Linked DNA regions of Homo sapiens. The protein of the gene in region 2 purifies or fractionates together with the protein of the main gene of each other region. This does not show direct contact. Each region holds a gene or a part of one and is shown on either strand. Other genes may lie near its edges.

Evidence for each region.
Region 1: the proteins of CORO1C (region 2) and ACTR3 fractionate together in Homo sapiens (co-fractionation; one large-scale study listed by BioGRID). This does not show direct contact.

What each region holds. Positions count from the first base shown.
Region 1 is NC_000002.12:113,931,583-113,935,522, reverse strand, and holds part of ACTR3 (actin-related protein 3), read right to left. Parts: intron 1,245-3,940; coding exon 1,137-1,244; intron 1-1,136. UniProt on the Homo sapiens protein: ATP-binding component of the Arp2/3 complex, a multiprotein complex that mediates actin polymerization upon stimulation by nucleation-promoting factor (NPF).
Region 2 is NC_000012.12:108,724,685-108,728,926, reverse strand, and holds part of CORO1C (coronin-1C), read left to right. Parts: intron 1-4,242. UniProt on the Homo sapiens protein: Plays a role in directed cell migration by regulating the activation and subcellular location of RAC1. Increases the presence of activated RAC1 at the leading edge of migrating cells.

The DNA of each region.
Region 1 (3,940 bases), on a different chromosome or scaffold from region 2:
AAAACATGGATGAATCTTGAAAATGTTCGGCTAAGTGAAAGCACCCAGTTACAAAAGACCACAGTGTTTAACTCCATTTACATAAAATGGCCAGGACAGGCAAATCTAACACAGACAAAAAGTAGATTCGTGGTTGCCAGGGGCTGAAGGAATCAAGGGGAAATGGGTGGTGACTGTTAATAGTTACAGGGTTCCTTTGTAGGGTGATGAAAATGTTCTAAAATTGTGGGGACGGATGGACTTTGTGAATATACTAAAAATCAATGAACTGTACACTCTAAAGAAGTGAATTGTATGGTATATGAATTTTATCTTAAGCTATCGTTAAACAATGGCAGTTATTACTAAAACCATTATGACATATCATGAGGGTGAAAGTGGTGGAGGACCAGGAGTCTAATCCAAAGGTAGTCACCCTGAGGATGTAATCTTTAACAGACATTGCCTGATGCATTAAACACTGGAGTGAGAATAAAAAAAAAAAAAAGTTCAAAATAATGTAAATCCTTAAGTGATATTCATTATAATATAAAAATTACTTTAAAAGATAAACCTTTCTCTATATACCCATTTAATAATAAACAGTATGAATTCTAGTAGTCATTTTGAATTCATTAGGCATAATTTTTTTAAAACTTGATGTATCATTAAGAACTGAAGCACAACGGCCTTGGAAGAAAAATGTTATTTCTGACAATCTAATTTGATGCATTTTTCTTAATATGCTTTATTAAGTACAAACCATAAAGCATCTACTAAAGTTCAGGTACTTAAAACTAACTGTTATACAGTTACCCTGTACACCAGTCTGAAATCTGTTAATTATGAATAAAAGAGGTCATCAAATGGCTAACACACATCCAACTGGAAAACAGAATGAAAGCCATTAATATACTTCCATTCCAGATATTGCAATTTGTAATTTTCTTAATTGCAGTACAAACCTACAGTAAAAGAAACATTTTGAATTGTTTATAAAAGTTTTAAACGGTGAGCAAAACATAGCTATAACTGGACAAATGGCCAAATTATAGTGCAGCATTTAAAGTTTTTTAAAAGTAACATTAATTCGTATAATTTAACTTTGCCAGATGTGTTATTTCATGTTCTGTTCAGTAACTGTAAAATAGCCTTACCACAGGAATGACATGAGTGACACCATCTCCACTGTCTATTACCGTACCGGTCAACGTCCGTTCTCCTACTTGTCTTGAGGTCCAAGATGCAGCTAAGGCAAGAACAGCCTTGAGCACAAAGAAAGAAGAAAGGCAAAAAAACAAAAAAAAAAAACAAAAAAACAAAGAGTTAATCGAAAAAAAAAAAACTAGTTCCCTGGAGTACTTTATTCAATTTTAAATGTAGTATCTGTGGAAAGAAAATACATAAAATTAATTTTGTATTATGCAATAAAATAGCTCACTCCCTACATTTTATTAAGACAAACTTAGAGGTTTACATTTGCTTTTAGGAGCATGATTTGTAAGATTTACATATTTTATAAAGGCTATTTCTGTCCTAAAGCTAAAAATGTGGAAGATTGCATTAAACAGTACAGAACTAACTGTCTGTAATCCCAGCACTTTGGGAGGCCGAGGCGGGCAGATCACGAGGTCAGGAGATCGAGACCTTCCTGGCTAACACGGGGAAACCCCGTCTCTACTAAAAAATACAAAAACTTAGCCAGGTGCGGTGGCGGGCGCCTGTAGTCCCAGCTACTCAGGAGGCTGAGGCAGGAGAATGGCGTGAACCCGGGAGGCGGAGCTTGCAATGAGCCGAGATCATGCCACTGTACTCCAGACTGAGCGACAGAGCAAGACTCCATCTCAAAAAAAAAAAAAAAAAAAATTGTATAGAACTAACTTGCCAGAACTTAAACTATGTCCACGTGGGCTGGCCTGTTACAAACTGCAATGTAAGGCAGAAAGTACACAACCACCCTACCTCCAGTTATTCAATACATATATGGCTATAAACAACTATTACTAAAAGATTACCTTCTTTTTCTTTTTTTCTTTGAGACAGAGTTTCTTTCTGTCACCCAGGCTGGAATGCAGTGGCACGATCTCGGCTCACCGCAATCTCCGCCTCTTGGGTTCAAGCAATTCTCTGCCTCAGCCTCCGGAGTAGCTGGGATTACAGGTGCCCACCACCACACCCGGCTAATTTTTGTATTTTCAGTAGAGACGGGGTTTCACCATCTCAGCCAGGCTGATCTTGAACTCCTGACCTTGTGATTCACCTGCCTCAGCCTGCCAAAGTGCTGGGATTATAGGCATGAGCCACTGTGCCAGGCCTACCTTCAAATTTTTTTAAGGTAACATGTGTTTAGGACTATATGACATACAGAAAACGCCATCGCACACCTCCAAATACTACTATGATTTAATTATGGAGCAACGTTGATAAAATTTTTCTATGAAAAACCTTGGTACAGACAATACAACACAATTCTTTTTTAAGTGTGAGAATTAAGAAATTAACATAGTTCATTTTTTAAAAAACTAAATTTCTTACAATCCAAGCCTCAAACAAAGTATATGACTAGTAATTAAAAACAACTAAACTTATACTGGACTTATTTTACCTACCTGGACTGTAATAGCTAAAAGGGACCTAGAAAGCTATCTAGGTCACCCTCCTATCTGAACACAAGATCATATTAACACAATCACCACATAATCACTATAGGCTAACAGAACTATACATTATTTTTTGACAATCTTAAAATGAAAAATTCCATCCTAATACTAGTTATATATATATATACTGTTTAGACTTCATTATGAGATATCCTTCCTCTATAAGTAAGTTCAAAACTATCATCTACAACCAAGAATTATCTCTGATCACTTTTACAAGTCTTTTGTAAACAGTTACGGTCCCAAACTAGAATAGATATGTATCAGCACATCATGTTACAGAAATGTTATTGACTACTGAACATCAACAAAACAGAACAGAGATTAAATAATGAAATTAAGAGCACTCAGAGGCCACTAAGGAAATCACTGAAAAACCAAATTACGACTCCAGAGGAATGAAACAAAGCTCATGATGCCAGTGTTTTAAAGTAAGCTTTACCTGACAATATGGTTAAACATAAGTTTATTATATTTAACATAGGATGAGAAGCAAAAACTCCCAAGTGAAAGATGAATTTTCCCAACTCCTCATTTTATTCATATTCTAAGAACTAAAAAAGGGCCTCCCACTCAAGACTGAATTCTTCTATAAAGTTCATGACAGGTTTAAGTGACTCCTTAAATATTTTTAGCAGCAGAGAATTTAAAAGGCAGTTCATTAAATTTATGGATTGCATTAAACATTAAAAAGTTCTTTGCTATCCAAGTTAAAATATTCATCCATAATTATCACTTATTGATTCTGTGTACCGTGGAGTTACAAAAACCAGTGTGATCCCAAGAAAGAGCAAAGTCAGACAGACCTCAGCTGCCTGGTATCACAGCTAACCATTTAATTATGAATAAAGTGCCTTCCAGCTTTAGTTTTCTTCCTCCACAAAAAACAGAAACAAAAATATCTACATTTAATAGAAATAATGAATTAATACACATATAAAGCATTTGTGTTATGTCAGGGATTACCTCTGCTACAAGGGAAAAAAAAAAAAAATGAGGTCAGCTCTGATCCTGAGGGGTGGGAGAGAAGCTGTTCCATACAGATAAACGTACAAATTAAGAGAAGTGAAATATTAGGGTGTCAAATATACCTAAAGATAAGTCAATCAAAAAAGACTACAATAAAGGACAAAAAGATTTATAAGGATAAATGATAAAGGATTATTTACAAGGATAAATATATATACAATGTTCTTGTCACAGAGAAAGCATTCCATAAATATTAGTTCCTTCATTTCTGTCCTATGAAAGCCCTTGAAATACCCAAACACCACTAACTTACTTTTTTAACACTTCTCTTT
Region 2 (4,242 bases):
ATCCATGTGATAAAACCTCTTAAGCTTGTTTTCCATTTATGACTTCTCTGTGTTACTGTCTCCTTGAATTATGAAAACTCTTTTCTGACACTTGTATGTCTTTTTAAACTTAAGATACCTTTTCTGTATTAAAACAGAATTCTTCATGAATATTTCAGTATGACCTAGTACCTAGAATGTTAAGTAATAGAATCTCTCTGGGTTTTCTTTGCCCTAGTTCAGATCCTTTAAAGTGAGTGAACAAGATTCTGTACTCCTTTCTGAGTACTTTGTATTTCTAGAGTGCAGAATGGAACTTTTTTTGTTTTATAACAGCTTCATTGAGACATACTGTACAGTTCACCCGTTTAAAGTGTACAGTTCTGTGGTTTTTGGTATATTCACAGAGTTGTGCAGCTGTCACCACAGTCAATTTTAGAACATTTTCATCCCCCCCAAAAAGAAACCCCATACCCCTTAGAAGTCCTCCCGTTTCATGTAAATGGAATCATACACTATGTGGTCTTTTGTGTCTTGCCCTTATTTAGCATATTTTCAAGGTTTATATGTGTGGTAGTATTGTATAGTACTTCATTTTTTTTTTTTAATGGTCAAATAATATTCCATTGTTTGGATATGCCGTATTTTGTTTATCCATTCATCAGTTGATGAACATTTGGGTGTTTTTCCTTTTTGGCTATTATGAATAATGCTGTGAACATACGTTTTCATTTCTCCTGAGTATTTACCTAGGAATGTAATCGATGGGTTGTATGGTAACTCTATATTTAACTATTGGAGGAATGGCCAGACTTCTCCAAAGCAGCTGCACCATTTTACGGTATTCACCAAGAGTATATGAAGGTTCTAAATTCTCCACATTCTTGCCAACACTTGTTACTCTCTGACTTTTTGATTCTAGTCATCTGTGTTTCCCTAATGGCTAATGATGTTGAGCATCTTTTCATGTGGTTGGTGAACATTTGTATGTGTAATCTTTGGAGAAATGTCCATTCAAATGCTCTGCCCGTTTTTTAATGGGTTGTCTTTTTATTGGTGTTATAAAAGTTGTTCATGTATTCTAGATTCAAGTGCCTTATCAGCTGTATGATTTGCAAAAATTTTCTTGGATTCTGACATGTCCTTTCATTTTCTTGATGGTGCCCCTTTTTAGGAACAAAGATTTTAAATTTTGATGATTTCCAATTTATGAATAGTGGGGTCTTACTAGTTAGAAATTAGACCTTAAACCACACCCTCCTCAATATTTTGGTTATATAAGTTGAAACCCAAATGTGAGAGGACTGGGGAAAGGTTTGAATTAATATATTTTAAGGTATGCTATAGATGAAAAAGGATTCATCAGGGAACATGCCATTCACCTGTTCAAATCCTCTGGTGACCTCACCTTTACCCACAAAATAAAGTTCAGACTCCTTAATGAGGTGTGGAGTAAGGTGGGCTCTGATTTCAGCCTGCTTTATTTCTCACTATTCCCCTTCCAATGTCTTCATCTCTAGTGCCACTCCCTGAAACATCCCAGCTTTCAAATCTTGTGATGAATTTATTACTTCATCGCCTTTCTACTTCTAGAATCCCACTTGTCCTTTGGGACATGGGTCATGAGGTTTTTCCTCCATGAAAACTTCCTCATCTCACAGGCAGACATTTGTCCCTGCCCTCATGTATTGTACATTCATCAGGACTGTTTGCTACAAAGAACTGGACCTGAATTTGAGCTAATAGTCTGAAAGGTGCCTTTCCATACAAGGCAGAATGCAATAGAGCAATTCACATGGAAGGCAGACTGAGATTCTCTTGTTCATGGCTTGGTCATTAGTGCCTACTGGATATTCGCTGAATGAATGATTGTTTATTGAAGTTAACTGGAAAGATCCTGAGGTCAGTGGGTTTCTCTGATTATCATGAATGTCTTTATTGCCTATGTTAAAATAACATGAATGGGGTAACTCCCTTTTGCCCTTCTGGCATCCAAGTCCAGCTCTTACCAAAAAGTGCTCAAATGTAAAACTGAGTGTTTAAAACATTTCCCCAATGGCAGAACATTCTCGTCCAGGTTCTTTCCCCCGATGAACAGTAATGACTGGCGCACAGTCTCCTCAGTAGGGTAGATGGCCAGCGAACACGATTTAGTCACACCAAATGCATACAGGCCGACCCTGATAGTATTTGGTCAGTTAGTACTGGAACTACCCCTGTCACACTCATGAGAATGGTTGTAAATTGGATTTTAAGGGTGTGTACTTTCTTTTCATTCTTTTTTTTTTTTTTTAATGTTTTGTAGAGATGGGGTCTCACTATGTTGTATAGGCTGGTCTTGAACTCCTGGGCTCAAGCAAGTCTCCTACCTTAGCCTCCGAAAGTGCTAGGATTATAGGCGTGATGCACCATGCCCAGCCTCTTCATTCTTTTGTTCATGCTCTCCTCTCTTGGGGTGTCTGACTCAAATTAGTATTCTTTAGTTATATTTTGTGTTCTTATGTTCATTTTTTTTTTTTTTGAGACAGAGTCTCACTCTGTCGCCCAGGCTAGAGTGCTGGAGTGCAGTGGCACGATCTCAGCTCACTGCAAGCTCTGCCTCCCAGGTTCACGCCGTTCTCCCGCCTCAGCCTCCCAAGTAGCTGGGACTACAGGCGCCCGCCACTACACCCGGCTAATTTTTTGGTATTTTTTAGTAGAGATGGGATTTCACTGTGTTAGCCAGGATGATCTCGATCTCCTGACCTCATAATCCGCCCGCCTCGGCCTCCCAGATTATGTTTATTTTTAAAATACTTTAATTAAAAATATTTCATGCCGGGCGTGGTGGCTCACACCTGTAATCCCAGCACTTTGGGAAGCTGAGGCGGGCAGATCACGAGGTCAGGGGTTTGAGACCAGCCTGGCCAACACGGCCAACCTGTCTCTGCTAAAAATACAAAAATTAGCCGGGTGTGGTGGCACGCGCCTGTAGTCCCAGCTACTCAGGAGGCTGAAGCAGGGGAATTGCTTGAAACCTGGGAGGCAGAGGCTGCAGGGAGCCTAGACTGCGCCATCACACTCCAGCCTGGGCGACAGAGTTGCACTCCAGCCTGGGCGGCAGAGAAAGAATCCGTCTCAAAAAAATAAATAAATAAATAAATAAATTCACTTAGCACCTTTCTGAGAATTAGGAGAAACCAGTTGGCCATTTCGGGATACCTTTTCTTTGTGTGTTCGTTAAAGCTTGGATTGTGGCAAGGTAGTACAGAAGAGAAAGAAAAATGTCAACTTTTTTGTCTAGTTAGGGACAGTGAGCTATGGGTACCTTCTGTAGTTCTCGTTCTAAGAGAGTTTTGTATTTAGGGGAACTGAGGCCGTGAGGGTGCAGGCCTTTAGGGCCAGATAGAGCTGGGCTTCACTCTTGGCTCCGCTTCTTGCTAGCTGTGACTTTGCCAGCTCCCTCACCTCCCTGAGCTTCACTTTCCTCCTCTGTAGTGTGGAGATGCAAAAGGCTTACCTTGCAGGGTCATTGGCAAGATTAAGCAAGGAAAATTATATGAAGTGCCTAATACAGAGTAGGTACTGAATACATTCCTGTTCCCTCTCTTCTCTCTTAAATGTCTGTTAATGAATGGAACTGCAGAGAAGCAAATAGAGTAAGTTTAATACATTTTACATCTGACATTAAGCTATTAAGGGTATGGATTCCTACTCCCACCTGAGGATTTTAGACTTTGAATCAAAGTTGAGTCACTGAAGAGGGCAAAAAATGTCTAATTTTAGGATGGGAAGGCGGTCTTAAAAACACCTCCAGTGTTTTTGCATCTGTCTGAATTGGAAATGTCTATTCAGACAGTCTTCTCTATTCAGGTCTGTGTATTCAGTCTCTCTGTCTGTGTGTCTGTCTGTCCATTTTAAGGAAAGTTCCTGGCAAAAGATGGATTTTTTTAGGATTTGAAGGAGATTGCACTGCAGTGCTTGAGATAACTCTTCTGGTTACAGTGTGATAAAGTGTAACATCCTGTGTGGGAAAAGAGCCTCTATAGTTTTATGGTATGTTAAATTAGGCCTGTCATTTGGATCTTACATTAATAACAAAAATACAGTTCCTCCCGTTTGCTGCAGTAATGAGTAATTAATATAATGCAAAGGTCAGAGTGAGAGAGACTATAAATGGGAGTAGGAAGGCCTATACATTGTATGTGGAAGGCAGTTATATTTTTTCCCCTTTGGTCAGGCAATGATCTACATTTCTTCTTAAAAATTTATGAATAATGGATT